Linked DNA regions of Homo sapiens. The protein of the gene in region 5 purifies or fractionates together with the protein of the main gene of each other region. This does not show direct contact. Each region holds a gene or a part of one and is shown on either strand. Other genes may lie near its edges. The genes, in order: PKP1, NXPE3, CEP120, IPO5, SPICE1 and SERPINB8.

What was found.
Region 1: the proteins of SPICE1 (region 5) and PKP1 purify together in Homo sapiens (affinity purification with mass spectrometry; one large-scale study listed by BioGRID and IntAct). This does not show direct contact.
Region 2: the proteins of SPICE1 (region 5) and NXPE3 purify together in Homo sapiens (co-immunoprecipitation; one large-scale study listed by IntAct). This does not show direct contact.
Region 3: the proteins of SPICE1 (region 5) and CEP120 purify together in Homo sapiens (affinity purification with mass spectrometry; 2 studies listed by BioGRID and IntAct, with this or other methods). This does not show direct contact.
Region 4: the proteins of SPICE1 (region 5) and IPO5 purify together in Homo sapiens (affinity purification with mass spectrometry; one large-scale study listed by BioGRID and IntAct). This does not show direct contact.
Region 6: the proteins of SPICE1 (region 5) and SERPINB8 purify together in Homo sapiens (affinity purification with mass spectrometry; one large-scale study listed by BioGRID and IntAct). This does not show direct contact.

The regions. Positions count from the first base shown.
Region 1 is NC_000001.11:201,330,998-201,333,489, forward strand, and holds the end of PKP1 (plakophilin-1), read left to right. Parts: 3' UTR 1-1,992; downstream 1,993-2,492. UniProt on the Homo sapiens protein: A component of desmosome cell-cell junctions which are required for positive regulation of cellular adhesion.
Region 2 is NC_000003.12:101,798,640-101,804,293, forward strand, and holds part of NXPE3 (NXPE family member 3 isoform 1 precursor), read left to right. Parts: intron 1-2,595; coding exon 2,596-3,350; intron 3,351-5,654.
Region 3 is NC_000005.10:123,383,878-123,389,531, reverse strand, and holds part of CEP120 (centrosomal protein of 120 kDa), read left to right. Parts: intron 1-925; coding exon 926-1,100; exon of another isoform or gene 1,101-1,228; intron 1,229-2,864; coding exon 2,865-3,014; intron 3,015-4,398; coding exon 4,399-4,581; intron 4,582-5,654. UniProt on the Homo sapiens protein: Plays a role in the microtubule-dependent coupling of the nucleus and the centrosome.
Region 4 is NC_000013.11:98,018,433-98,023,147, forward strand, and holds part of IPO5 (importin-5), read left to right. Parts: intron 1-52; coding exon 53-272; intron 273-1,148; coding exon 1,149-1,377; intron 1,378-2,559; coding exon 2,560-2,701; intron 2,702-3,303; coding exon 3,304-3,390; 3' UTR 3,391-4,715. UniProt on the Homo sapiens protein: Functions in nuclear protein import as nuclear transport receptor. Serves as receptor for nuclear localization signals (NLS) in cargo substrates.
Region 5 is NC_000003.12:113,503,003-113,508,656, reverse strand, and holds part of SPICE1 (spindle and centriole-associated protein 1), read left to right. Parts: intron 1-2,051; coding exon 2,052-2,150; intron 2,151-5,429; coding exon 5,430-5,477; intron 5,478-5,654.
Region 6 is NC_000018.10:63,982,689-63,988,342, reverse strand, and holds part of SERPINB8 (serpin B8), read right to left. Parts: intron 4,765-5,654; coding exon 4,622-4,764; intron 3,251-4,621; coding exon 3,098-3,250; intron 2,086-3,097; coding exon of another isoform or gene 2,077-2,085; exon of another isoform or gene 1,693-2,076; intron 1,470-1,692; coding exon 1,065-1,469; 3' UTR 1-1,064. UniProt on the Homo sapiens protein: Has an important role in epithelial desmosome-mediated cell-cell adhesion.

The DNA.
Region 1 (2,492 bases), on a different chromosome or scaffold from region 5:
TCCCAAGAGCTGTTCTGGGAATGGCTGGTCTTCATATTCCCAGTGGAGAGGGGAACAAGTGGGGCTGGGCATATACCTATTCCGGCTTCTAGTGGGATGGAGTTGGGGTATAGAAATTAACCAGGAAGATGTTTCCACCAAGCCTGCTGTGAGTCAATTGAGGGAGTGTTTGGGGTCCCAGGAGACTTGGACGGGGGGAGTTTGGGTAGACTAGGAAAGGAAAGTGCCATATCAGGGTACCGGTACCGGCAAGCTCACATCTCAGCCAGGGGCCATGCCCCACTTCCCCTGACCCCAGCTGTCTTGTCTCCACTCTGTGAAACCCACAGGGGATGTGATAAACAGGGCTATTAGGGGTATCAGCCACGTCGAGCCCCCAGACTCTGTGCACTTCAGACCAGCAGCAGCAGGAGGGCTCCCGAGGGCCTTATGAGAAAACCTGTGTGGACATCCCTTGGTGTACACTAAGACAGAGCAGAGCCCAGCGCTCCCAAGCCTTCCTCCTTCCAGCTTCTACCTCCATGCTAGCATTGCTGGTGTTAGAGAGGAATTAACTTCCTGGTCTGTGCCCTTCTCTAGAAGAATATAAGATGCTCCTCCTCCTCACCCCTTCTCAGCCTCCTCCCAAGTCTTCCTCTTCTGCACCACCCCCGAGTCCAAACCCACCTCTTGCCCCAGCATTCAGGCTGGAAAACACTGATGTGGACTCAGTATGATAACTGAGATGGGGGACGCCAGACATGTGAGGACGCTGTCCTCCGAGAGGTGTCCCCGGCTGTTAGCCAGCTGTGCTGTGGTGCTGTGGGTCTGTCATACCCTCCCTTGCTTCTGTTCACACTGGGAGGCCCACTCCTGGCTCACCTCTCCCTCTCAGGGACCCACGTGGGAGCCTGGATCCCTGGACTGTCCTGGGCATAGGTTTCAGGGGCCTCCTTTGTTGTCATCAGAACCCAGAGGAATTCTTCTCCTAAAAAATACGTATGGCATACCAATCTGTGCGGGGCAGTGTCCTAAGCACTTAGACTACATCAGGGAAGAACACAGACCACATCCCTGTCCTCATGCGGCTTATGTTTTCTGGAGGAAAGTGGAGACACAAGTCCTTGGCTTTAGGGCTCCCCCGGCTGGGGGCTGTGCAGTCCGGTCAGGGCGGGAGGGGAAATGCACCGCTGCATGTGAACCTTACCAGCCCAGGCGGATGCCCCTTCCCCTTAGCACTACCCTGGCCTCCTGCATCCCCTCGCCTCATGTTCCTCCCACCTTCAAAGAATGAAGAGCCCCATGGGCCCAGCCCCTGCCCTGGGAACCAGGCAGCCTTCCAGACCTCAGGGGCTGAGGCAGACTATTAGGGCAGGGCTGACTTTGGTGACACTGCCCATTCCCTCTCAGGCCAGCTCAGGTCACCCGGGCCTCTGACCCAGGCCTGTCACTTTGAGAGGGGCAAAACTGAGAGGGGCTTTTCCTAGAGAAAGAGAACAAGGAGCTTGCCAGGCTTCATGTAGCCGACACACGTCTCAGGATTTTAAGTCCACATTGGCCTCACACTACCAGGGCCAATGCCCAAAATAAGGAGTTCCAATTTGGGGCCAAATGAGGAAGGACACAGACTCTGCCCTGGGATCTCCTGTGCTAGCGGCCAATGACAAATCCAGTCATTGGCCACCAGCCACCTCTGCAGTGGGGACCACACTAGCAGCCCTGACTCCACACTCCTCCTGGGGACCCAAGAGGCAGTGTTGCTGTCTGCATGTCCACCTTGGAATCTGGCTGAACTGGCTGGCAGGACCAAGACTGCGGCTGGGGTGGGCAGGGAAGGGAAGCCGGGGGCTGCTGTGAGGGATCTTGGAGCTTCCCTGTAGCCCACCTTCCCCTTGCTTCATGTTTGTAGAGGAACCTTGTGCCGGCCAGGCCCAGTTTCCTTGTGTGATACACTAATGTATTTGCTTTTTTTGGAAATAGAGAAAATCAATAAATTGCTAGTGTTTCTTTGAACTTTTTCGAGGAGTGGATTCTTTGGGGTGCTGTTGAGGGATGAAGGGGCTACTCATTTCCTTCCATGATCTCCTCTTACCCTGTACCAGGCAAGGACTGAGAATGCCACCCGGGGGCACAGGGACAGCGCTATCCATGGACACCTGCTCTACAGCAGCACATCGAGCCTCACCGCAGCTCCATGACACTAGGATTGCTGTCCTGATTTTTAAAATAAGTAAAGCGAGACTTAGGGAAGGAACAAATACCCCCAGGGTCACACAGCTTGTAAATGTCCCCAAGCCTGAACCCATCCAGGTGGGGCATCTGTAGGAAAGAGAAATTCAAAGATGAAGGTCAAGGAGTTGGTGTTTATTTAGTTTTATTTATTTACTTTTTGAGACAGGGGTTTTGCTCTGTTGCCCAGGCTGGAGTACAGGGATGAGATCATGGCTCAAAGAGGGCTCAACCTCCCAGGCTCAAGCAATCCTCCCAGCTAAGGCTCCCAACTATGGGTCTCA
Region 2 (5,654 bases), about 12 Mb from region 5:
TCTTGTTCTGTTGTCCAGGCTGGAGTGCAGTGGCACAATCTCAGCGTACTGCAACCTCTGCCTCCTGGGTTCAAGCAATTCTCGTGCTTCAGCCTCCTGAGTAGCTGAGATTACAGGTGTGTACCACCACACCCAGCTAAATTTTTGTATTTTTAGTAGAGACAGGGTTTCACCATGTTGCCCAGACTAGTCTCGAACTCTTGAGCTCAAACGATCCCGATCTGTCCACCTCTGCCTCCCAAAGTGCTAGGATTACAGGCGTGAGCCACTGTGCCCAGCCCAGTTTTAATTTATATTTATTTATTTATTTGTTAGAGACAAGGTCTTGCTCTGTTGCTCTGGCTGGAGTTCCATGGTGTGATCATAGCTCACTACAACCTGGAGCTCCTGGGTTCAGTGATCTTCCCAGCTCAGCCTTCCGTGTAGCTAGGACTACAGGCATATGCCACCACGCTTGGCTAACTTTAAAAAAAAATTCTTGTAGAGATGGGGGTCTTGCTATGTTTCCCAGGTTGGTCTTGAACTCCTGGCCTCAAGCAGTTCTTCTGCTTCAGCCTCCCGAAGTGTTGGAATTACAGGCATGAGCCACTGCACCTGATCTACTACTGTTAACATAATGAAAGATGAGGCCTCTGCTTCATTCTCCTTCCACAATTTGTAAAATTAATTTTATTTCTATATATAACATTAAATAATGTATCTAGTCCTTTTATTTCCCCAACAGCATAATATATCTTAACTTCCTGCTCTAAGTGATGAAGAAAGCCCTACTCATTCTTATTTATTTATTTGTTATTATTTTTTTGAGATGGAGTCTCATTCTGTCGCCCAGCCTGGAGTGCAGTGGCGCGATCTTGGCTCACTGCAACCTCTGCCTCCTGGGTTCAAGCAGTTCTCTCCCTCAGCCTTCCGAGTAGTTGGGATTACAGGCGCCTGCCACCACACTCAGCTAATTTTTGTATTTTTAGTAGAGATGGGGTTTCAGCATGTTGGCCAGGCTGGTCTTGAACTCCTGACCTTGTGATCCATCTGCCTCGGCCTCCCAAAGTGCTGGGATTACAGGTGTGAGCCACCGCATCTGGCCTACTTCATTCTTTTATATTTGATTTCCACTAGTTATAATATTACTTTTGCATCATTAGGTGCATTCTTTATGGATTGTATCCTTCAAGGAATTGGTCCATTTCATCTGGGTTATCAAATTTATGGGCATAGAATTGTTCATAATATTCCTTTATTCCTTTAATGTCCATGGGATCTGTAGTGATGGCTTCTCTTTCATTTCTGATATTAATAATTTGTGTCCTCCCTCTTTTTTTCTTAGCCTGGGTAGAGGGCTTATCAATTTTATCAATCTTTTAAAAAACCAGCTTTGGGTTTCATTGATTTTTCTTTATTGATTTCCTGTTTTCAAGTTCATTGATTTCTGCTATCATGTTTATTATTTTTCTTCTGCTTATTTTGGATATTGTTTGCTCTTCTTTTTCTAGTTTGCTAAGATGTAAGGTTAAATTACTGATTTTAGGTTGTTTTTCTTTCCTAAAATATGTATAGTACTATGAATTTCCCTCTAAGCACTTCTCTTGCTTCATTCTATAGTGTTTAATGAATTATATTTTCACCTTCACCTAGTTAACATATTTTTAAATTTCTCATGAGATTTTGTATGTTACCCATTTGTATACCATTTTGGGATTTTTCCAGCTCTCTTTCTATTATTGATTTCTAGTTTAATTTCATTATGGCTTAAGAGAAGACACTGTATGATTTTTATTTTAAAAAATTTTTAAGGTGTATTTTATGGCCCAAAATGTGGTCCGTTTTGGTGAATGTTCCATGTGAGCTTGATATGAAGTAGTTTACAGATGTCAACTATATCCAGTTTATTGATGGTGCTGTTGAATTCAACTATGTCCTTACCGATTTTCTGCCTGCTGGATCTGTGTATTTCTGATAGAGGATTGTTGAAGTTTCAGACTATAATGTAGATTCATCTATTTCTCCATTAGTTTTTGCCTCACATGTTTTGATACTCATTGGTTAGGTACATACATGTTAAGGGTTGTTTTTTTTTTTGGAGAATTGACTCCTTTATTATTATGTAATGACCCTCTTTATCTTTGCTAACCTTCCTTGCTTTGAAATCTGCTCTGTCTGAAATTAATATAACTACTACTGGTTTCTTTGGATTAGTGTTAGCATGGTATATCTTTCTCCATTCCTTTACTTTTTTCTTGGTGTTTCTCCATCTTAGGTTGGACTGGGTGGCTCGAGTGGGCTGGAGTTGGATATTTCCCTTCTCTCAAGTTGGTTAGGCTCTGATAAAACTCCAATAGGCTAGGTTCTGATAAAGTGGTTTCTCTTGAGGGGCAGCTTTGTTAAGAACAACACAGTGCTCTGCATACTTCAAAATGGGTCCTTTTCCCTTTCTCTTCCCGGAAGCCCAAGGGGATTTTTCTTTGATATTCACTGTGAGAATCTGATTGAGCTCCTGGAGCTAAAACTCACAGAAGTGTGGGGAGCCCTCTGAATTTATGCCAAAATACAGAGACCTATTATAGTGGTAATTTCTGTTGTTTGTGTCTTCTTCTTCAGTACTTGGACCATGAGACTGTTTCAGCCACTTTCATCGACAGCAGTGGACAGTTTGTTTCCTCCCAGGTGACAGGAATTAGCCGAAATCCCTACTGTGGCTATGATCAGCAGACCCTGTCCAGCCAGGAGCGCATGGAGGAGGACTCCTTGCTGGCTGCCTTGCACCGGCAGGTTCCTGATGTGGGCCCAGTCCCCTTTGTGAAGAGCACTGACCCTTCTTCCAGCTACTTTGTCATCTTGAACTCTGCTGCCTTCTTTAAGGTGGGAAGCCAGCTTGAGGTGCTGGTTCATGTGCAGGATTTTCAAAGAAAGCCCAAGAAGTATGGTGGAGACTACCTGCAGGCCAGAATTCACTCCCTCAAGCTGCAGGCTGGGGCTGTGGGCAGGGTGGTGGATTACCAGAATGGGTTTTACAAGGTTTTCTTTACTTTGCTATGGCCAGGCAAAGTTAAAGTATCCGTATCTCTGGTCCACCCCAGTGAAGGGATCAGAGTTCTTCAGCGCTTACAGGAAGATAAACCAGACAGGGTCTATTTCAAGAGTCTCTTCCGTTCAGGAAGAATTTCTGAAACTACTGAGTGCAACGTGTGTCTTCCTGGGAATCTGCCCCTGTGTAACTTTACAGACCTCTACACTGGGGAGCCCTGGTTCTGCTTCAAACCAAAGAAGCTCCCTTGCAGCAGCAGAATTACCCATTTCAAAGGTGGATACCTGAAAGGTCTCCTAACCGCTGCAGAGAGTGCTTTCTTCCAGAGGTATGTACTGCTTTTTCTTGGGGATGATTTGAAGAGTTCTTTTCCACTGTCCTTGTCCCATTTAGGAGACTTTCTGGTATTCGGTATGTGTTTCTTACCTCTCTCTCAACTTGGCCCAATACAGAAGAGGTAGTGAATAAAAAAAAAAACATAGATTTGTATTTTTCATTAGTGTTTTAAAAATGAAGCTTAATGCTTATCTGAGTCCAAATTAAAGACCTTTTACCCTTGAATTTTTGTTCTTTACCCTCATATCTGTGTTTTCCTTTAGAACCACATAGCATGTTTACACAGTAGCTGTGTAAGTAAAATCCCTTATTCACAGAACAGATAGAAGTTATCTAAGGGTCAGATGTGGTGACTCATGCTTGTAATCCCAGCACTTTGGGAGGCTGAAACGGGAGGATCGCTTGAGCCCAGGAGTTTGAGACCAGCCTGGGCAACATAGCAAGACCCCATCTATTTTATGTAAAGAAAAAAATAATCCAAGAACAGGGCTGGTAGGGCTGGTAGTCAGGCTGGTGTTTTATCTTTGTATCTAATGAACTGAAACTTTAAAAAGTAACATAATAACAGTTTTTAAAATCATTTGAACCTACTGATTAAAAAACTATGAATATGGCAACATTGCTGGGTTGACTTAATAAGCATAGGAAGTCAGGAATACCACAGAAAACTATATTTTTTAAGCTAAATAGTTGTTGAAATTATTGCAGTATTGTGTTCAAATTTCTATTTCAAATGTAAGCTTAAAATATTTTCAGCATGATGAGAAATACATGGAATAATGTGCAGAAAGGAATATGGAACCAGTATGAATTAAAATTTGTGTTTTCTTCAACATTCCATAACATCACTAAGAAATAAAAAATTATAAAAGCTACATGGTTAAAAAGTACCATGCTGGCCAAGCGTGGTGGCTCATGACTGTAGTCCCAGCACTTTGGGAGGCTGAGGTGGGAGGAAGGCTGGAGCCCAGGAGTTTGAGGTTGCAGTGAGCTGTGATCACAATTGCACTACAGCCTGGACAACAGAGTGAGACCCTGTCTCAACAAAAAGTACAATTGTTTGAAAGAATGTATACATGTTTTTTACTTTTTAGTGAAATATATTGTTTTTAAACATTCCTTGGTAGAGAGAATTTTTTTGTTGGATAAAAGGGAGGTATTTTTGTTAAGGATATCTGGGCACCCTAAAAATTTCATACTTTATGTCCACTCATTACCGTATGGGAGAAAAGTTGCTACCATAAAGTATGTGGTTTGTAGGAGCTCCTAAAATAAAACTCTTCAGTTTTCCACCCTGAAGTCAGCTTTTGGTCATACCAGATTATGTACATATGTAGTGGGTTCATGCCATACTTTTAGAAGGCCAGCAGAGGGAGCACTACTCAATGTACAGTGTTTACTGTACTGCTGAGAAGACTAGTATTTTCTATGGCTCAGTACAAAATGAAAACAAAATTAAATTTCACAACTCCTCAAAACAAAACCAAAACAAAATTTTTCATTTTATTCGTGGGTTCAGGTTTCAGACATGCTATTTATTAGTGACTGAGCAGATTATTTTATTTCTGTGTACTTTTTTGCCTATATATGAAGACTACTCAATTACCCTATTTTAGAGGGTTGGTTTGTTTGTTTGTTTTGCAACAGGGTCTCACTTTGTCATCCAGGCTGGAGTGCAGTGGCATGATTGCAGCTTGCTGCAGCCTCAACGTCCCGGGTTCGACGGATTCTCCCACCTCAGCCTCCCGAGTAGTTCGGACTACAGGTGTGCGCCACCACACCCAGCTAATTTTTGTATGTTTTGTAGAAATGTGGTTTCACTATGTTGCCCAGGCTGGTCTTGAACCCCTGGGCTCAAGTAGTCCTCCTGCTTTGTCCTCCCAAAGGGCTGGAATTACAGATGTGAGCCACCATACCCCGTTAGAGTTGTGTTTTTAGATTTTTAAGTTATTATGGATACATCCTAGTTGCACATATTTTTGAGGTAGATGTGATATTTTGATACAAGCATATAATATGTAATGATCAAATCAGGGTAATTGGAGTATCCATTGCCTAAAGCATTTATCATTTCTTTGTGTTGGGAACATTCCAATTCCACTGTCATAATTGTTTTGAAATATATAGTAAATGATTGTTAACTATAATTGCCCTATAGAGTTACGTTGTCAGTCTACTTAGTGGCCTAGCAAAGAGGAAGAAACATAGTAATTTACGCAAATTCCAGGTGGAAAATAGAGAAAGTTTAGAGAACTAAATTAGTGTAAAACTTAAAAGTATTTCTGACTATAAATTC
Region 3 (5,654 bases), on a different chromosome or scaffold from region 5:
CGGAACTCCGTCTCAAAACAAAAAACAAAACAGTAATGTGTGGAAATATAAAAAATTTCAATGCAAAGTCATTGCAATCTATCTAACTTCAAAATATAATTCTCTAAATTAACAGAATTTTTTATTTTACTTGTACACTGGAAATATCCTATTCAATAGACATTAAATAATATAGTTTTTGCAAGTAGATTTTTTAAATGATTAGATTCTTAAATATCTTGAAGTTTGGAGAAAACAGTTGTTAACTGCCTCTTATAGTAAACTCATAATAACCATTTTTGATCCTGAAGTTAAGAGAGAGTCTAAGAATGCATATTTATCTGATTTAATAAAATTTTTCCATCCATTGCAGTTATAGTTAGTAGTGTAAATAGTAGTGGATTAGGAGTTAGATGTCTTTGCTGTAAGTTACATCTCTGTCACTGAGTGGCTGTGTGACTTCGGCCACTCACTAAGTATCTCTGATCTCTAATAGGTTGGACTAGATATCTGTCTTTTTAAGTTTTAGCTTTCTGTTATTTTAAATATGCCTAAAATAACCAAAATTACTGTAAAAAGGTGATGTCATTATATCTCAGTAAGTCTCATATACAGCCCTTCAAATGTTAAGTTATGTGCCTCTTGGAAATAAGTTAGTGCCTTCTAGGCTGCAGTCATGTATATTTCTCTATTGGTTCTGTACGTTTTCTATATGTATTGAGAGTAAGCTCTTTTTTCACACAATTCTAGAATGGAAATTAAAACCTGGGTTATTTTTGTGTGAGTTACTTTTAAGATACTTATACCTCAATTCATATGTTCATGAGACAAAATAGCCCAATTCCTGCTTAAAGGTAAATGAGATGATAGCCTTAAACTATCTGTACAATTTAAGAGAAACTGTTAGCAAGTGTGATTATTTTGTTTTATTTTATGTTCATTTCAGCCAGTTCTTCTGTACCTGCTTCACTGGCCCAGCTAGTGACTACATCCAATGCTTCAGAAGTAGCTTCAGGACAGAAGATTGCTGTACCAGCAACATCACATCATTTTTGCTTTTCAATAGACTTAAGGAGTATACATGCCTTGGAGATTGGTTTTCCAATCAACTGTATATTAAGGTGTGATTTGATTTTGTTTCAAAGTATTATTTTCTGAAGAGAAAGGACTTTCCTGTGTTTGGGGAATTGCAGAGAGAAATGTCACCAAAGAAGTTATAACATTTGTTAAATCAGTGGACTAAAAGGGGGTAAGGCTATATCCTAATGATTTTGAATTCAAACAAGGGTAGCATAGTAGTAGGAGAGGTAACTGTCTTATTATTCTGATATAATAATTGTAGGCATTTATAATAACTTATTCTAAGTAATATAATACATGTATGTATTTTGATAAACATACATAATATGCCATATAAAGTACAGTGCCTCTTAAACTTGAAAAGTGCTTTTTTTCTGGAAAAAGTATTACTGGTCAAAATAATAATAATGGTCAAAAAAAAGTAATAATAATACTAGTCAAAGTATTACTGGTCAAAAAGGTAGTGTATTATCTGATTTTTCTATAAAACTGTATTATAATGGGAGCTCATATTCCTAATACCTCCATTTCATAGCTATGAATCTAAACACCATACTTAATCAGCTGTAAGTGGAATGTGTCTACATTGTTCTATATTAAGAATTTTATATAATATATATGTCAGTTAAGTAGTTTTACACAATAATTTGTTTTTAATGATGTTACATTTTTATAGTCTTTTGTGCCCGAGATATAAATTAAATATAATACAATAATGTATTTAGTTTGGGGTAGTTAGCATCTCCTCATAAATTTTTTGGGAACAAGCATTAGCATTTGCAAAAGTTGAGGAAATAAATTGTTACAGTCCACTTAACACTCTTCATAGAATTCATTTGATACGGACTAATAGTTCGGTCTTTGAATCATTTTAAGGCACTTTAAAAATGCTGGCCACTTAACTTTTTCTGTTGATAAATTTTCATACCATGCTCTGTATTGGTATGAAATTGTAGTTTGCAGCTGTGTCATGGAATTGGTTAGGTAACACTGGTATTTGAAAAGTTTCTTATCTGCATGACTTCCTTTATTTATTTTTCTTTTAATCACTAAATCCTGTAGTGTGGTGGTAAGCATAGGGAGCTGAAACTCTAGGGCATTTAACTTTCCTCGGAAATGACATGATTTAAATGGATATATAATTATATAGGAATTGGGTGACTACATAGAATTCTTCTTGTTGGAAAGCAGTTTTTACTAATAGTGTTTAAATTTTAGTTCTCATATATGAATAACAAGATACAGGATTAAATTTAAATGAACATTATAATATCTTTATATTTGGCTTTAAATACAAATTAAGTTCAGCAGTAGTCAGGCATTCTTCCATTTAATCTAGCATGGCTTTGTGATGAAAGGGAGAAACAGTGTTGTTATGTCACTCTCTTGATTCATCCATAATACATTCGAATTGTTTGCATCCTTGCAAGATTACCATAATTACCAGATTACCATGAATGCATCCTTTTGGAGTTGACTAAGGGCTTTTTATCCCATAAAAAATCAGGATACTATTGTATAAAATAAACCAGGTTTACAAATAAATTTAGGAAGCATTTCTTGAATATTTATATATGGCAGAAACTGCCTGTGTCCCTGGGAGTGCAGAGATAAAAAAGGTAGGACATGTGCCGTCAAGGAACTTCTTACACAGATGACAGATTGCTATGTCTACCATGTTTCTATTAAAAAGTTGTATTTGCTCATAATATTCATATTATACTTTTTTCTAAAAAACAGACTGAATGTCATCTGTAAACCATATCATTAAGGCTTTTTTTTTTTTTTTTTTTTTTAAATTCTAGGTACTCATATCCATTCTTTGGAAGTGCAGCTCCTATTATGACTAATCCTCCTGTAGAAGTTCGGAAAAACATGGAAGTTTTTCTTCCCCAGTCTTACTGTGCATTTGATTTTGCAACTATGCCTCATCAGCTGCAAGACACCTTCTTAAGGTAATGCATACAGTGTATGTATGATATTAATTAATTTAAGTCAATTCTTGAAAATTTGTATTTTATTAAAAAGGAATTCTTATAGGTTTAAATCCATAGCAGTTTATGCATTTGAGGATCAAGAAACAAATTTACTAATTATGTGTATGACATTTGTGCATCTGCTACAGGGTTTTGCATGGTTTATTATAAAGGCTCTTTTTTGATTTTCCTATCTTATTTACCTGAATTTAGATATTTTAACTTTGTTAAAACAAACTATATGTAATGAGGGGCCTTTGAAAAGTGGTCTTGCCTTTTCCTGATATAATGTGGGAAGATAAAAAGCTAAGAACTAAATATTTACTTTTTATTGTTGATTCACTGAATGAAAAAATTTGCTTTTTCTGTTTTTTTAAACCTATAACTAGAGATGTTAATCTGACTATCTGAAATGGATTCATGAAAAAATCTGAGATCTGCGAAACACCTTTTACTTTCTCAGAGTATCACAATTCAAATTTATACATTATTTTAAAAAGAATGAAGGGTAACTTAAATCTAACCATTTGTGGGAATTACAGCATTTGAAGGTTTTTATTGCATAGAAAGTGGTACAAAAAATATAATAGTAGGCCTGGCATGGTGACTTACACCTGTAATCCCAGCACTTTGGGAGGCCAACTTGAGCAGATTGCTTTGAGCCCAGGAGTTTTAGACTAGCCTGAGCAAAATGGTGAAACCCTGTCTCTACAAAAAATACAAAAATTAGCCAGCACCTGCAGTCCCAGCTACTTAGGGGGCTAAAACGGGAGGATCACTTGAGCCCAGGAGGTTGAGGCTGTAGTGAGTTGTGATTATGCCATTGCACAGCAGCCTGAGTGGCAGACCAAGACCCTGTCTCAAAAAAAAAAAAAAACAGGTATAGTCGTGAATTAAAGATAGGGATACATTATGAGAAGTGCATTATTAGATAATTCTATTGTTGTGTGAACATTGTAGAATGTACTTAAACAAACTTAGATGGTATAGCCTACTGTGCACCTAAGCTGGGTGGAATAGCCTATTGCTTCTAGACTGCGAACCTGCACAGCATGTGACTGTACTGAATACTGTAGGCAGTTGGACAAAGGTAAGTATTTGTGTATCTAAACAGAAAAGATACAGTAAAAATATGATATAATTTTATGGGACCATCATTGTATGTGAGGTTCATCATTGATGGAAACATCATTTCATATTTGGTGCCTGTGAAATTTAGCATTCAGTCTAACAATTGTGTTAGACGACATTCCAGGTAACAAAAAACATCTTTGACTCCATTGAGGGAATTCAAAGAATTTAGTTCAGAAAAGACTTTAGGTCAGAGTTGATAGGTATGAACACATGTTTCTCTCTTCCTTAGGATTCCATTACTGGTTGAACTATGGCACAAGGATAAAATGAGTAAAGATTTACTTCTGGGAATTGCGAGAATCCAGCTTTCTAACATCTTGTCTTCAGAAAAAACTCGTTTTTTAGGTTCTAATGGTGAACAGTGTTGGCGTCAAACTTACAGTGAAAGTGTGCCTGTTATAGCAGCACAAGGGTAATGCATTTCACAGAATTGGTATTTGCTTTTCTTTTCAATTCATGGAATGATTTTGATTAGTCAGCCACCACTTCACCCTTCCATAACCTCTTTTTTCTGATCCACCACTTCACCCTTTCATAACCTCCTTTTTCTGATCTTCTCTGACCTGTGGCAGCTATACCCCACTTTGCCCTTTAGCTTTCTGATACTGATTTCACCTCACAGAAGTCAAGAGTCTGTGTTACCATGGTATTGTAATATTCAGATGGCTAATTATTTTCCTTCCTCTCTCTAGCTTGAGAATTTTAAATGCAGGATCTATTTTTTTATTTTGTAATTTGAGGTTAAACTTTATAATGTATTTTATATTATTTTGCACTGGGAATGGCTAAGACTGTTTTTCCACTTAAAATATTTTACTCCTACCCCAAATCAAAAGTCTGAGGACATTATAGATATTTGGCAGTCAGAGGCAGTTTTTAAAATAATTATTGGTTTTTTGCCCTGAACTTCATTGCCACAAAGAAAAACTTGCGTTTTTTTAACATATTTTAAATACAGTAAAATATTTGTTGAATTATCCTTTCAAAATTAACAATAAAAATTTAAAATTTAACTTAACATTATATATCATATGCCCTTTATCATTAAAGATAAGACTAAAAAAAAGAGAAACAAGGCTCAGTGAAATTTTAGCTCTAAAAGTATTGAAATGTCTTTCCTTATTCCTCACCATTCATGGCCATTTTGTTTCAACTCCTATTATTGAAGAATCTTTCTTAAAAATTAGCATTTTTTTGTCGTAAGTAGAAGATAATAAAATCACTAATAATTGAAGCTATTTTAATGCTGCCCGTTTGTTATGAATATTAACTTTTATTGCCATACTTTGTAGACAGAAAGTTTTAGGAGATTTACTTAAGTGAGAACCTTAGATACTCTCAGGAGTTTCTGTCAGATACAGTAGTGCTTCATTTAACTTTATTCATTTCTTCTGAAATCTGTGAGATTAGAAGAAGAAAATACAAAAGTTGGTTAATTAAGAGTTCTAATTGTGTGAGAACCATTCATTCAAGTTTTGTTTGACC
Region 4 (4,715 bases), on a different chromosome or scaffold from region 5:
CATTCTTTGTGTACACCAGTATTTGAAGCTTAAAAGAGAATTTCTTTTGTAGTGTCCACATAGACCATGGCCAGACAGACAATGGGGATTATGCATCTTTGATGATGTCATAGAACACTGTAGTCCAGCCTCATTTAAATACGCAGAATATTTCTTAAGACCAATGCTCCAATATGTATGTGACAACAGCCCAGAAGTCAGGCAAGCAGCTGCATATGGCCTGGGAGTCATGGCACAGTACGGTGGAGATAATTATCGCCCTTTTTGTACAGGTACGTTTGCTTATTCCGTTACGTGCATTTCATTCCAGACATCCTGTGAATCCCTACTTTACTCTCTTTACCACACTCCCAAACATTATTTGCCTATTTCTGCTGTAGTCTGTTTTCAGACATCTCATCTGTAGCATTTAGGATTTTAGATGATAAAAAGATGATTTATTCTCATAGAAATAGAATCAAAGACATCCCCTGCCCCCAGCCTTCCAGGGTGCATTTCTCTTTGCGTTTTGGCAATATACAACAGCCTTAGAATAGGACTTTTTTTTTTTTCTTTAATTGAGGCCCAGGCTGGAGTGCAGTGGCATGATCTCGGCTCACTGCAACCTCCGCCTCCCGGGTTCGAGCAATTCTGCTTCAGCCTCCTGAGTAGCTGGGACTACAGGCGCATGCCACCACGCCTGGCTAATTTTTTCTATTTTTAGTAGAGATGGGGTTTCACCATGTTAGCCAGGATGGTCTCGATCTCCTGACCTCGTGATCGGCCCACCTCAGCCTCCCAAAGTGCTGAGATTACAGGCGTGAGCCACCACACCTGGCAGAATAGGACTTTTAAAACTTACTGGGGAATATAGTTAGGCAGCTTTTAAAGTTTAAGGACCCTCGGGTGATGTGATGAGTACTGTAAATCTGGAGGCCACTAATCTCTCTGGGTCTCTAAGTTAGTAGAGGGCTAGTGCTCCTGTCCATGCTGGGGCAGTCCCCCCTCTGTTGCCATTCTGTAATGACATAGCCAAGAAGACAACACTTCCCATACACTTTAACATTTCTTTACCATAATCAATATCTGAACCAAATACAAAAATACATATATTCATTTGCATGAAAATGTGAGGTTTTAGCTGAACTTCTTTCAAATGCTTATTTTAGAAGCACTTCCCCTGCTGGTAAGAGTTATTCAGTCTGCGGATTCTAAGACCAAAGAAAATGTCAATGCTACAGAGAACTGCATCTCAGCAGTAGGGAAAATCATGAAGTTCAAGCCTGACTGTGTAAACGTTGAAGAGGTCCTTCCACACTGGTTGTCTTGGCTTCCACTACATGAAGATAAAGAAGAAGCTGTTCAGACTTTCAATTATCTGTGTGACCTGATTGAAAGGTAGGAAAGCAGACTGTGACCTTATTTCCTTCTCCTCCACAGTGCTTCCTGGTTTTTCTTGCCTAACATCAGTCTTTTAAGGTTTAACCACATGATCTCTGCACAGTCCTCAGTTGTATAGGTTTATAATAGTGCTGTCTTTATAAATCATATTAAGAAACCATATCACAGTTAACATTGCCCTTATAATAAGGTCTAATTTTGAGTTATTCTTTATGAAATTAGATTCAACAGATGAGGCACTTTAATTATTTATTTCTTTGTTTTTAAATTTTTTTGGTAGCGACAAGGTCTTAACTGTTTTGCACAGGCAGGTCGCAAACTCTTGGCCTCAAGAGATCCTCCCACCTCAGCCTCCCAAAGTGCTGGGATTACAGGCATGAGCCACCAAACCCAGCCTAAGGGAATGTTGTTTAGTGTCTGTTTTCTAAGTCCAAGTTCCCCCCAAATATCAGTCAGATCTAAGCTCTGTCGCTATTATTATTTTTAGGTTATGAATAAATTCAAGGGCTACAACCACTGCCACTATTGTAGCAATAGGCCAACAGGTATATTCTCCATACTTGTTTAAGTTCAGGTTCACATAAGAAATGGGTTTGAGTCTTCCACTGACCATATCATTAAGGAATGTAACAGCCATCCTGCAGACTACATACTCCTGACCTGCTCCTACATCTGAAATGACCAGGTCTTAATCATGCTATTTGATCATCTTCCTTGGAAACGACTACTCTGAAATTCTCTTAGTGACAAAGACTAGAATTCTTAAATTCGCTATCAGGTTTTTTCCCATTAAACTTGCCTGAGTTTATTTCCCAGTTTATTCTTGAAATGTTTATATAATTTTTTTGAACTTCAGAGTTATTTTAGAAGCTATTTTGTAGTAGCAAAATAAAACTTGTGTTAAACTTATTTTTAATAATACAAAACATTTTTTTTAACACATCACAAATTATTTATAAGGTATTTAGAGCATTCTGTTGTTTGGCCCTTAAAACAATCCTGAGAGATGAGCCCAGTATTTTTTTTTTCTAATTTATGTAGAAAGAAACTAAAGAGTTCATATATAAGATTGGCTGGTTTTCTTCCTACTGAATTTAAAAGGCCATTGATTTTAGTGAACACATAATCATATTTCTCCTTATAAATTTCACTTACTAAGGTTTTCTTCTCATTTGTCAGTAATCATCCAATTGTTCTTGGCCCAAACAATACCAATCTGCCCAAAATATTTAGTATAATTGCGGAAGGAGAAATGCACGAGGCAATTAAACATGAAGATCCTTGTGCCAAACGTCTGGCCAATGTCGTTCGCCAAGTACAGGTAAGCTGATTTGGTTGAATTGGGGAGGGGGAGATAAAACCTTTTTTTCTTTGTAGTCCTCTATGAGAAGAAACTAGAAATCTAATGAGCTAAGGAATTTTATTTTTATATTTTCATAGTCTCTTGTCTCCAAGCCTCAAATGGATTATACTTAATGTAATCCATCCGTATGTACTTATTATTTATTAGAATTAAAACCTTCATCTTAGGACATTTTGAGCTTACCAGTTGGTGCTTAACACAAGCTTATGTGTAGTTTTTCTGCCTATCTTAAGAAAAAAAAACAAGATTTAATAATAACTTGTCATCTGCCAAAAAACTTTATATGATTTTTACTTCCTATATTCATGTGGTATATGGGTTACTTTAAGATGTTACCTGCTTAGTGTAGCTTTTTCAGTGCAAAAATGAAGAAAACTTACTGGAAATGAAATGAACTTTAAAAAAATGAACAGATTTCTTGCTTTTACAATGATACTCATCAAAATAATGTACCTAGGGAGAAGGTATTTTGCCATGATTACAGTTTACCTATGATGATGATTAAAATCCTTCCAAATGAGCATTTCGTCCTAAGTCTGTGAAAATGTTTCTTTCCCTAGACTTCTGGAGGACTGTGGACTGAGTGCATAGCACAGCTCAGTCCTGAGCAGCAGGCCGCCATTCAGGAGCTCCTGAACTCTGCGTGAAGGGCCTTAATGTCACCCACCAGAAAACTAACTCCAAATAAACGCTTACCCTTTCCTTTAGGTTTCTTTGTTTTGTTTTTGAGCAAAAGAGATCGGTAGTGTTGTGTGTAGGCCATTCTTCTGGAGAGCCACAAGCAGGAAGAGCAGCGCTGTGTTGCAGAATGGAGTTTCCATGGATTTCTACCAGACCACTGAAGGAGTTCCTGGAAGCCCTGCGGTAGCTAGCACTGAAGACTATTTTTCTATTGGTATAACCCGCCCACCTGAAGGGGAAAGGGAAATCAAATTAATTTTTCTCGTTAGACATAAGGAAATTTAAGGAAAAACAGCTTTAAGAACAGTTACTCAGCGTAGATGTGTGTTCACACAAATTGCTCTGCATTCAGTGTTCATTGTGAATTGGGAGTGTGAGTCTTTCTGTAGGGTAGAAAGAAGCCTCCTACCCAGCAAACCAGTAGACCCAAAAGTTGAAAAAAACTGATGACAGACAACAAGCATGAAGATGGCATATTTGATGTCACTTTGGTTCTTTTTCCCAGAAGGCTTATACAGTGACTCAGTCGGGAAGCTTTCCAGCTTCCAGCCCTTGAATGTGAAGTGTCATTGGCATGTCTGGCAGTAGTCTCTCATTCACTCCTCAATAAACAACATTGAATACAAAAGAGGCTTGTGTAAAAACTCAGTACTGTCTGGCTTGGATTCATTTCATGTTTTTAATATAAGAATGATCTAATATTTTTTTAAAGTAATAGCTATCAGTAATAGCTGAGTGTTTTTTCCCCTAATATTTTCCTTGTGCAATTCAGACTTAAGCATCGAGTTTTTACCATCTTCCACTTTAAGCTAAGTTATGATACCTATTCCATTCACAATTGGTGTTCTTTTTAAGGTTTGCAAATTTCAGCCAATTTTGTAGCTAAGATTGTTCTGATCAGCTCAAAAAGATTTGGCTTAGTGTTTTCATTGCAAATTATAATTGCTGTAGAGCCACACACAACTTTTGAACTTTTAATTATAAGTGTTATGGCTAAAGTTATTTACTGAAAATTTCAGTAAAATGTGTGAATGTTTCTTTATGTATTAACCTCATAGCAGTAAATGACTTGCTGTTGTTTAATTTTTCTAAGGCATCTTAATAGACTTCTGTTGAAAACTTCAGTGTTAACATTTTTATAGTTTGTACTAAATTTAACCGTGATATAAAAATGAATTTTATGCATAGATCAGAATTTTAAATTAAAGGTTTTTTCTTTAAATGATTTGTATTACTTTATTAAAACTAAATCTGAAATGGAATAGAAAATAGAATGGATTACATACAGATG
Region 5 (5,654 bases):
GAGCAATATGTGAGGATTCTAGTTTTTCCATATTTTTGTCAGTGCTTGTTGTTGTCCGTCTTTTTGATTATAGCCATCCTAGTCGGTGTGAGGTGGTATCTTGATTGGCATTTCCCTAATGACTAATTATGTTGAACATCTTTTCATGTGTTTATTAGCTGTCTATAGTATCTTCCTTGGAGGAATGTCTATTCAAGTCCTATGCCCATTTTTAAATCGGATTTTTTAAATTGTCGAGTTGTAAAATTTCTTTATATAGTCTGGATTCAAGTCCTTTATCAGATAGAGGATTTGCAGATACTTTCTCCCATTCTATTGGTTGTCTTCATTTTCTTGATTGTGCCTTCGAAGCACAAAAATTCTTAATTTTGATTACGTCCAATTTATTTTTTTCTTTGGTTGCTTGTGCTTTTTGTGTCATTTCTAAGAAACCATTGCTTAACCCACGGCTCACGAAGATTTACTCTTATGTTTTCTTCTAAGAATTTTGTAGTTTTAGCTCTTATATTTAAATCCATGAATCAATTTAATTTTTGAATATGGTGTGAGGTAGGAGTCCAACTTCATTCTTTTTCATATGCGTATCCAGTTGTCCCAGCACCATCTGTTGAAAAGACTATTCTTTCCCCGTTGAATTGTCTTGGCACCCATGTTGAAAAACTGACCATAAATGTAAGGGTTTGTTTTAGACTCTTTGTTCTATTATATTCTGTATCTTTTTAAATGGTACTTATGGCTCTGCTACTTACTAATTGTGTGACCTTCATGGTTGGTTAACTTTTGTCTCTCAGTTTTCTCGTTTGTAAAATGAGGAATAAATAGTAAGTACCTCATGGGGTTATTGTGAGGATTCAAGAAAATAATGTTTAAAGAGCTTAGAATAGCATCTGGCTTATAGTAAGCACACGGTATCTGTTAGCTGATGCCATCATTACCACCGTGGCTATCATCATCATTACCATCATAAAACTTAAATGTTATTTTCTAACTTGTATGTGACTTGTTTTCTTTGGCTGAAATTGTAAATGCTGAAATTAGATACCATGTTTAAGGAGTGAATGTTCTTGTTAAGAGAGAGTACAGAGTGCAAGGAAGATTGAGGGCAAACTCTTAAGAAATACTTGTATTTAGACATTTTTATTATAGTAGACAATGATTTTTTTTTAAAAAAAAGTACTTAAGGAAAATACTAGAGTCCTTGTTTTAGACTAATTGGGAGTAAGGGGGTCAGCTGGAAAGTCCTGTAATTATTTAGGTAGGTTAAAAGTGTCTGCAATAGTAGTCATGTATATGTATTGCTTTTTAAAAGTCATATATATGTATTGTAAAATCCTGGTGTTCGGGGACTATGGGTCTTTTTCTAATTTGGTGTAATGTGTAGTCTAGTGTGCTTAGCATTGCTGTTTAAACAGTGGCAAACTAATGTTGGCAATTTAAAAATTCTAGTTTAAAATCAATAATTATTAATTTGTTTATCAGCAATAGAAAAAAATCAATAATTAGCACCATTTAGCATTATGTGACAGATATATTAGAAGTGATATCATACCTCATTTGTTCTCTAAAGTTTAGCTACTTTTATTTTCAAGTAAGCCCATATGTACCTGGTAGTGATTTTGAGTGTTAGAGTGCTTAAAAAAGAACTCCAACTCTCTTTTGCCCTTTCTTCCCTTCACCTTACATTCATATTGTTAGCTTGTGACTGGGCTATTTTCTACTAATTGTAAATTTGTGTAACTGATGACAAAGCTTATGACGAATGTCTTAGTTCTCGGCTTTAGGCCATAATTTCTGCATTCCTAGAGTTCTTTTTTAATCAAATATATAAGTTATTGACTTGAGACCTCTTTTATTATAATTATCAGTACCAACATTTATTAGTTGTAAAATAAAAGAACTAAGTATTTTGATAGGCTGTTCCTTTCATCATGCTTAAATTTTTCTTCTGGCATTTTAAAATTTGTTTTTTTTTTCAGGTGTCTTCCCCCACTCTGGTGATGCTTATTGTTTTTTCTTGTATTTTAAAAATTTGATGTGATTATTATTCCTAGATGTCATTTGTCAGAGTGAACCGCTGTGGTCCCCGAGTTGGTGTAAGAAAGACACCGAAAGTAAAGAAGAAGAAAACTTCAGTGAAACAAGAATGGGATGTGAGTATAGGTGGGATAGTAAATAATGTAACATTACTCTGGAGAAATGGACACAGTGATATGGCCCTAGTCATGCAAGATGGTGTTCTGAATGGGGCTCATCACGTAATAGGGTGGAATAGGTTTCTGGGCATGTGATATTCTAGGTCTTGGAGGGAAAAGCAGAATCCTTTGGGGGAGGTTTTTAGAATACACACATCCAGGCTGTAACCTCTATATCCTCTGAAGAATTGGAATCCTAAGGGGATGGGGAGCATATTTTAAAAAACGTCTTTTCACTTTGACTCTGAGAACTCACTGCATAAAGGCAACTCTAGCTCACTGGTGTCAATGAAGTCTGTGAATTTTTCGGTACCTTTTTTAGGTTTGCTCAGAGCAACCAGTGATATCATAACCATGTGAGTGCCAGTTTTGGCTGAAAAAAATAGGTGACCTTTGCTCTCTTATCCCATGAATTGCTCAATTCCAGAGGTTGATCGGTTTCAGAACAAATGTTCTCTTGTGGTATAAGACAAGGCTGAAGTACCTGTAACATGTGATGTATGGCTCCTAACCTGAATATTGCCTGGTGTTACCAAGGGGATTTATATCTTTTTTTTAAGAGACAGGGTCATGTCCTGTCACCCAGGCTGGAGTGATGTGATGCCATCATAGCTCACTGCAGCCTTAAACTCCTGGACTCCAGCAATCCTCCTGCCTTAGCCTCCTGAGTAGCTAGGACCAGAGGCATGCACCACCACCCCTGGCTAACTTAAAAAAAATATTTTTTGTAGAGACAGGTCCTTGCTGTGTTGCCCAGGTTGGTCTTAAACTCCTAGCCTCAAGCGATCCTCGTGCCTTCGCTTCCCAAAGTGCTGGGATTATAGGCGAGCCATTGCACCCAGCTAGATTTCTCTTTTGTGACCTGATACTTTGGTTTGGACCATGAGACTTTAGGTGTCTTTACTTTCCATTGTGAAGAGTAACTAGTTAGGGATTAGTTTGGATCTCAGGGATTCTTTTGGACTTGGAATCTTCTTGTTTGCAACCTACCATGTTAGCCAGATATCCTGGGCAAACTGACAGCCTTTGAAGTGGGGCAGCGGGACTTCTCTGTGTTTAGATTGTTTTGTTGCTGTCTGATTGGCTATAAAATTTTAATAACAAGGATGTGACTCTAAGGTAAGGAAACTGATAAATCGGAAAAAAAAAATATGTGATAACATATTTTCCCCTTCAGAGTGGTTACTTTGAGAAGTTTAGTACAGTTGACCTTTGAACAACATGAGTTTGAGCTGCACGGGTTCATTTACGCATGAATTTTTTTTCAATAAATACAGTTGGCTGTATCCTGGGGTTCCACCTCTACAACGAAAGGTGGATTGAAAATACAGTGTTTTCAGGATGTAAAACCCAGATATGGAGAGCCAATTAGGTGGGATTTGAGTATGTGTGGATTTTGGTATATGTGGGTGTCCTGGATACTGTGGGATGACTGCATTTATTCCAATATGCCACTATTGCTTAAAACTTAATTGAAATCTATCATTTGAAATTGCATTAAGAACCTTCCTCATTTTATCTGCAGTGCTGGAAAAATCTTTTGTTTTTTGAAGGTAGACTGAACTTGGAAAATAGTCATAAGTCATTTGGAGTAAATGGTAAATGATGGAGAAGAGATCAAACTGATTATTACTGTCTTGATAAAAATAGTGAAACATTTTCTGAAATGGCTTGTAGATTAGATTTAAATGGAATGTCAAAAGAAAATGGTTTTAAGCAATGGTTTTAGTATTGATGGAATTATTATTTTCTTCCATGAGAACAAATTTCAAGCCTATCACTTACTTGTATGCCTGAGTTTTTAAATGCCTATTAAAAACAATTCTCATGATCCTGTAGTTGTACCTTGTACCTTTCTTTTCCTTTTCCCTTTTTTTTTTTTTTTTTTTTTTTGAGACAAGGTCTTGCTATGTTGCCCAGGCTGGCCTCAGACTCCTGGGCTCATGATGAGATCTTCCTGCCTCGGCCTCCTGAACCTCCTGGGTAGCTGAGACTACAAGCGCACACCACCATGCCTGGCTCTTGTACCTTTCTAAATCATTGTAAAAGTAATAACAGTTTTCATACAGAAAAGCCTTGAGCCAAATATAAATCATGGCCAAAAAGTTTAGTCTTTGATCAGAAGCCATTTTTGACTGTTCGTATTCCTCGTCACTTAGAAGTAAAACTAACTTGTTTTATTTCCTGCCTTACCAAATCTGTGTAGCAAAATGGCTGAAGTTGCTTTGGAAAGGGCCAAGTTACAGGGTTGCTACTTAGAGCTGTGCAGCCTGTGTACCACACAATTTCAAGGGGTGCTATTTACACGGACTCTGATATTAATGGTAACTTATGGAGTTGTGCAGGGTGGTAGCCCTGCCATGATAGTTTAGTGCCTTTTAATTTAACTGACTGTTTTTACATTTTATGAAATTATGCATTGCCCTCAAATTTCATCTTCCATTGTAGTAGCATCTATGCTTAAGATGTTTGCAGACACAAATTGAACCTCTCTATAGTGATCACACTTTCTTTTTTTTTTTTTTTTTTTTTTAGATAGAAACTCGCTTTGTTGCTGAGGCTGGAGTGCAGTGGCACAATCTTGGCTCACTGCAGACTCCACCTCCTAGGTTCAAGTGATTCTCCTGCCTCAGCCTCCTGAGTAGCTGGAATTACAGGTGCCCGCCACCAGGTCTGGCTAATTTTTGTATTTTTAGTAGAGATGGAGTTTTGCCATGTTGGCCTGGCTGTTCTCGAACTCCTGAGCTCAGGTGGTCCACCCACCTCAGCCTCCCAAAGTGCTGGGATTACAGGCATGAGCCACTGTACCCAGCCAGTGATCTCACTTTCTTTTAGGAACCTTTAGCGTTACGTTGTGGAATCCTGGGATTCCATAGACTACAGTGTGAAAACTAAAACTTTAGTTAAACTTACTCATTTTGAATATATACTACCATTTATTCATATATCATATATTCATTTTGAGTATTTTCATTGTTTTACTATAGTGTATGACTGCTTGGTGAATACAGTACTTATTTTCTGTAAGACATCTAAAATTAGTCTGTTATTTTCTATAAATAGGACACCTAAAACTAATATGTGTTCATATCTAAATTGAGAATACTGGTTCCTAGAAAGAAAGAATTTTTGGTCCTAGGATTTTGAAACCATTTTAGCCATTAAAATCCAATAAATGTGTATATTTTATAAGAAAACTTTTTTTTTTTTTTAAAGAAAGGCCACCTTTTTTTACAGAATACCGTGACTGATCTAACCGTTCATCGGGCAACTCCCGAAGATCTGGTGAGTTTAATATCAAAACTTAAGTCATTTATTCAGTGTTTTATTTGGTATTTGACTTGTAACCTTTAGAATAGAAACTATAGGCACTTCCTGGAAGTTGTTCAGTTATGTTTAATCTTGTTTATGTCTATATAAAATCAAAACGCCTATCTTCTGGACTTCCTGATTTGAGCTAGG
Region 6 (5,654 bases), on a different chromosome or scaffold from region 5:
AGCCACACAGTGGAATACTATGCACATCAAATTGATGACCTGGAAAGATCTTAAGGGAGGTTTTTCATAAGGGAAGAAATAAGCTACTGAAGGATATGATTAACTTGTAGTAAAATGCTTATAAATTTCTATTTGCATACACATAATAGGGAAGGATGTATATCACTATTAACAGCAGTGATTGCTGTGTGTTGGAATTGTGGGTGACTTCAATTTTTTTGGAGACTTTGCTGTAGTTTCCAAATTGCTGCCACAACGCAATTTTATTTTTAGGCAGAAAAAAATTAATGTATATGGAGGTTCTTTCTTAACTAAGGGGTGTGCTTGAGCTGTGTCTGAGCACATATGATTAGTTAGAGGACTCAGTGGTGTGTTGCGTAAGTTCCTTTGGTATTTTGTGTGTTTCAGAGGGAAAAGGAATGGAAAGAACAGCATAGCAAGCTTCAGATATTTGCCTCCTAGCTCAGTCCTAAAGTGCATTGCTGAGTCCCTGAACTTGTATCTCAGGCTTATGGAAAGATGAGAAGGAGCTGTCTTCATTACAAACTGTGTGAGACAGGGGGCATGCAGGGCTGTCTATGTGACAGTGACAGAAGCAGATCACTATTTCAGCTGCACATGAGACACAGGGTGGCTGCAGCTTTACTCTATAGGGTTTGCCCTTGGCTTTGTGTGCAGTGTCACCTGGGCACTAGTCCCCTGTTCAGCCTGGCAGTGGTGGTGGGCAGAGCCGGGCGGATGGAAGAGGGCTGGCTCCTGAAGCCCTGAGATGCTCCATAAGATCCCCTGAAACAATGGGCACAGACTTAGGTGAAGGCAGAGGCAATGGCAGGCACCCCAAACACTCCAAAACCAGCATAGCCTTCCCAGGCCCAAATTTCATGCATCTGCGGCCTCAGTTATTCTCAATGGCTCTGGAACTTTCAGCAAAGACTTTCACACACTATCCAGTGCACACGCTTTATTTTGGCATTCAAGCCACTGCACCAACTAGGTCACAGGGAATGTTAATTAAGGCAAGATAGGTAGAAGGAAAGGAGGGTATGTACAGCAATTGCTCCTCTTTACGGAGAAGAGAACCTGCCACAGAACAAGATGCAGTTGGTTTTGTGGTGCCTGATGAAGAAAAGAAAAGGGTGGTCTGCACAGAATCTTGGCTCCATTCTGCTGCACCGGGAATTCCTGACCACAGCAGTGGCTGCGGCAGCCTCTGTGCCTTCCTCATTGACCTCCACGAAGCACTTGTGGGCAACCTTGGACAGAGGCACATTCTTCTCAGTTGACATTCCAGAAAAGTCTGCCTTGGCTTCGTCAAAAGCATCGATCATTCCTAATCTTCGAAGGAAAGGCTCCAAGTCATAACTCTCCTCCAGCTTTAATCTGGGAAGGAAAACTTGAACCTTACTTTTTGTCAACTTTTCTGAATTTGTCCAGGCTTTGAATTTCTCATATGTAAGTGCTTTTTCCACCTAGGATAAGAAAGACTCAAACCTTAAAATTTAGATGACAATAGCCTGATACCCACACACCCATTTATTACCCCTCCCCCAATGACATGCAATTAGATGGTGAGTTCTGGTCCAAGAAAATCTACAGATATTTTCTTTTATAAACACACCAAGATTTTCTCCCAAATTTTCATCTTTTCACAGTTTTATGGAGACAAGTGTAAAAGAGCTAGTAAACACCTGAGACAGGCAGAAATTTTTAATAAAAACAATTTGTACCTAACTCCTTTCAAATGTTAAAAACATTTTTTAACAGTTTAGAAAATTCTAACCAATTCATTACATTAATCTTCATGCAATACATACTACTGTGAGTGGGAGAGATTGTTTGACAAAAGACAAAGAGCATGGCTCAGAACTCTGCTTCTGAGTCTAATGAGGGGACTATTCAGGGTTAAATCAGAGGGCAACTCAGAGTAAAAGAGAGGGAATTGTGTTTCATCTGAAGATGAAGGGAGGCATGAGAAGGGAGCATGAGACGAGAAATGGGGAATGCAAGAAGACTTCATCAGCATCCTTGTTTGTCCTCTGCCTGTCCTGGAGTTAGCTTCAAATTCTTCAAGATCCATCACTCTTTCTATTTATCAATAAGGTAGAAAGAAAAAAGGGAGAAAGGCCTTCCACTAGCATCTCCCCTTCCCTTTAACAACTGGAGCCCAGGTGGGTACTCCTCTCCAACGAGCATTGTTTTGATTTTGACTCTATTTCTAGACTCTCCTAATTTTCTCATAAGTGGCCACAACAGATGTCATCCCTGACTTAGGGCAGTAGCTTTCTGATTCCAAAGGGAAGCCAGGAAAATCAAGCAGCCCACCCTCAACATCCTGTGCATTGGTGTGCCAGAGCTGACCCCTATCAATTGTTAAACCCTCAGTAGACTAAAGTCGGCCATGGTGGGAGTATTTACCATGTCATGAGAATCAGCAAACTTTATAAATGAAGGCTTCTCCCACCTCCCAGAGCTGGTTTACAAGTGCACTATTAGTCTTGCACCTCCTACCTTGCAAGTTTACCACTTCCCTTCCTGGACTCTGTTCCTTTTCTGTCACAGTAAGACTTTTCTCTCCTCTTGTATAAGGTAAATTTCCCACCTGTACTTTAGACTTTTGCTATTCATAGTGTGGTTCCAAGCATCTGTATCACTTGGAATCTTGTTACAAATGCAACATCTCAGGCCACACTCCATTGAATCAAAATCTGCACTTTAACAAGATCACTAGAATCATATATGTGCATTAGTGTTTGAGAATCACTGCCAAGATTGATCCCTACCCTTCTTCCAGGACTTTTGTGCAATAATCATTGGGCTTTCAAATAGACCTTCCATGCAGAATAAAGAATAATATTCCAAATAATAATATATTTAGAACTCTCTCTTCTTAGCTTCATCAAAACTTGTCCACTCATATATGTATACACTCAACAGAAATGCATGAACATGTTCATCAAAAGACACACAATGATGTTCACCCAGCACTGCCTGTAATAACCCCAACTGGAAACTCCTCAAATGCCAATTGGTAGATGAACATAAAGAAATGAGCTCAGCTGGACTCCACAGATACTCAGGCTCATTGCCTGGAGCTTACCACGGCGAGGTCCGTGTTGTCATCGGGAAGCAGAATGACCATGCTCAGCTCCTCTTCCACATAGGGCAGCTCCAGGACCTGGGTGTGTACCTCATCCGCATACCCCATTTTAAACTTAGCTTCCTTAAACATCATCTGCACTGTCTTTTTTTCCTAACGGAAAAATTAAAGTTCGATTACTGAAAAGTGGGTATAATTTACTAAAAATAGGATATATCTAACTCACAGAAACTCTAGGTGTGTATAATTACTGTTTCTGCACATTTATGCTGATAGATATAAAATCTTCATTAGTACATCTTAGTATTGAATAGAACAAGCTATTGTTCCAGCAGATCAAATATTACCAGGTGAGAAAAAAAAAACAGTTTGGTAAATGGAGAAGGACACAAAAATTGACATTATCCTTGGAAGAAGCTGTGTTTGCTTTTTTGAGAACATTCACAGAGAAGCTTTCTCATGGAAGCTTCCAACTAAAAATTCTTTATCGAAGTTAAGATAAATATTCAGGCCCTTGGGCTGAAGGATCTGGTTAGAAAAGATGTACGGTCCAAACTCTGGAAAGTTGCCTTGTTGTAGAATTGGTTTTATGGCCTTGGCTTTCTTAGGAAGGGGACCTTGAAGAGATGTGTAAGGTCTGCTGTTTTTAAAGCCTGCATCAAATATATTTTTAACTTTCATATCTTTGTGCAATATGAGAGTATCATATTTGATGGATGTCAAATCCCAAGCTAACAACTATTGATACCAGCCATTTTAATATTCAAAAGGGAAGGTAAAGTTAGGCTTTACATCTGCTAACTTTTTTTTCTTGTGCTCAGGATTGTATAACTTTGACTTTTAAGGCAATAAATAGGCATAGTTGCCACTGATATTGCAAAAAGGTATCTAACTAAATACAGAGAGTAATAGCATCATGCAAACATAATTCCAAGGCTTAGAAGAAATTCTCCTCCAATCCAAATCATATGACCAGAGATGGAAGGTAGATTTGATCAAAGATGGAAAAACAAAACTATCAATACCAAAATTATTTTTGTTTCTCTCTTCCTTCCGCCATTAAAGATACACAGGAGGCATTAAATTCATTCAGAAAAGAAGCCAGGCACAGTGGCTCCTGCCTGTAATTCCAGAACTTTGGGAGGATAAGGCAGGTGTATCACTTGAGGCCAGGAGTTTGAGACCAACCTGGGCAATATGACAAAACCTTATCTCTACAAAAAATACAAAAATTAGCCAGGCCTGGTGGTGTGCACCTGTAGTCACAGCTACTTGGGAAGCTAAGGTTGGGGAATCATTTGAGCCTGGGAGGTCGAGGCTGCAGTGAGCTGAGATTACACCACTGCACTCCAGCCTGGGTGACAAAAAGAGACCCTGTCTCAAAGAAAATAAAATAATATAATATAATTCAGAAATAGATTAAAATCAAGATCATGTCAAATAAATTATTCATTTTTCCAAGAGAATATTTCCTGTAATATTACTTTAAGAAAGTAGCAGTATATCTGAAAAATCTTTCCCTACCTCGTTGGTTTTAAAGAGCATTCCCCTTGTGTACTTTCTGTCAAATTGCTCATTCCACTTTCCCTTGAAATAAATGGCATTCACAAGGACCAGCTTTGTCAGGGGATCGACTGTCCCAGCATCCAGTACCTCTGAAATCTTACCTATAAAGAATATGAGAGTTTATTGCAATTTGTGGGGAAATAAGCATTCTTTTACAAAAATCCCTTTGACACATAAGGCAGAGGCTTGGTTGAGAGACAGGCTGGAGTTCTGTCTTTCTGGGCCCCTGATGAATTAGGCGATGGTGTTTAGCAGTGTGGCATACACAGTGTAACATTTGTGCTTAAGAAAAAAATCTTGAAGTAGGAAGGGCAACTATCATTTTGCCCTCAATTTATGGATGTAGAAATTCAGGACCAGAGCATTTGCCAGACTTTTGCTGAGTGCACACAGGTGACAAGTGGCTGAGTTGAGAACATCACCCCAGAGTCTTGATTCTGACTATGGGGCAGTCAACCTTGGCACTATCATATCCAAGCCTCACCGCTATTGTCATTTTAAGCCAGATAATTCTTTGTTATGGGGGCTGTCTTGTGCATTGTAGGATGTTTAGCCAGCAGCATTTCTTCCCATTTTGACAACCAAGATTGTCTTCAGCCATTATCCAATGGCACCTGGAGGGCAAAGCTACCCCTGGTTGAGGATCATTGCTCTATGCATATATTCAAACCTCATCAGACAAGGAAAGCTTTCCAAAGGATGAGAGAACACAGATCTGTCAATGGGAGAAGGCAGCCTCTCTGAAGGGGGTGAATGGGGCAAAGGAATTAGGGGGGTAGAATAGAGGGGCCCAAATTGAGTTGTCCAATGAGAGGGTAACAAGGTCATCTCCAAGGTCCCCTTCAGCTCTAATATTCTGGGGGAAATGTGGGTGGTCAGCCTAAGGGAAGGAAGGGCATAAGCAGCCCTGGAAGAGCAGTGACAGGTATAGGGCAGTGGGGGGAAGGTGTGGAGAAACTTCTAGGTTCCTCAGGTGACAGTACTGTTGAAC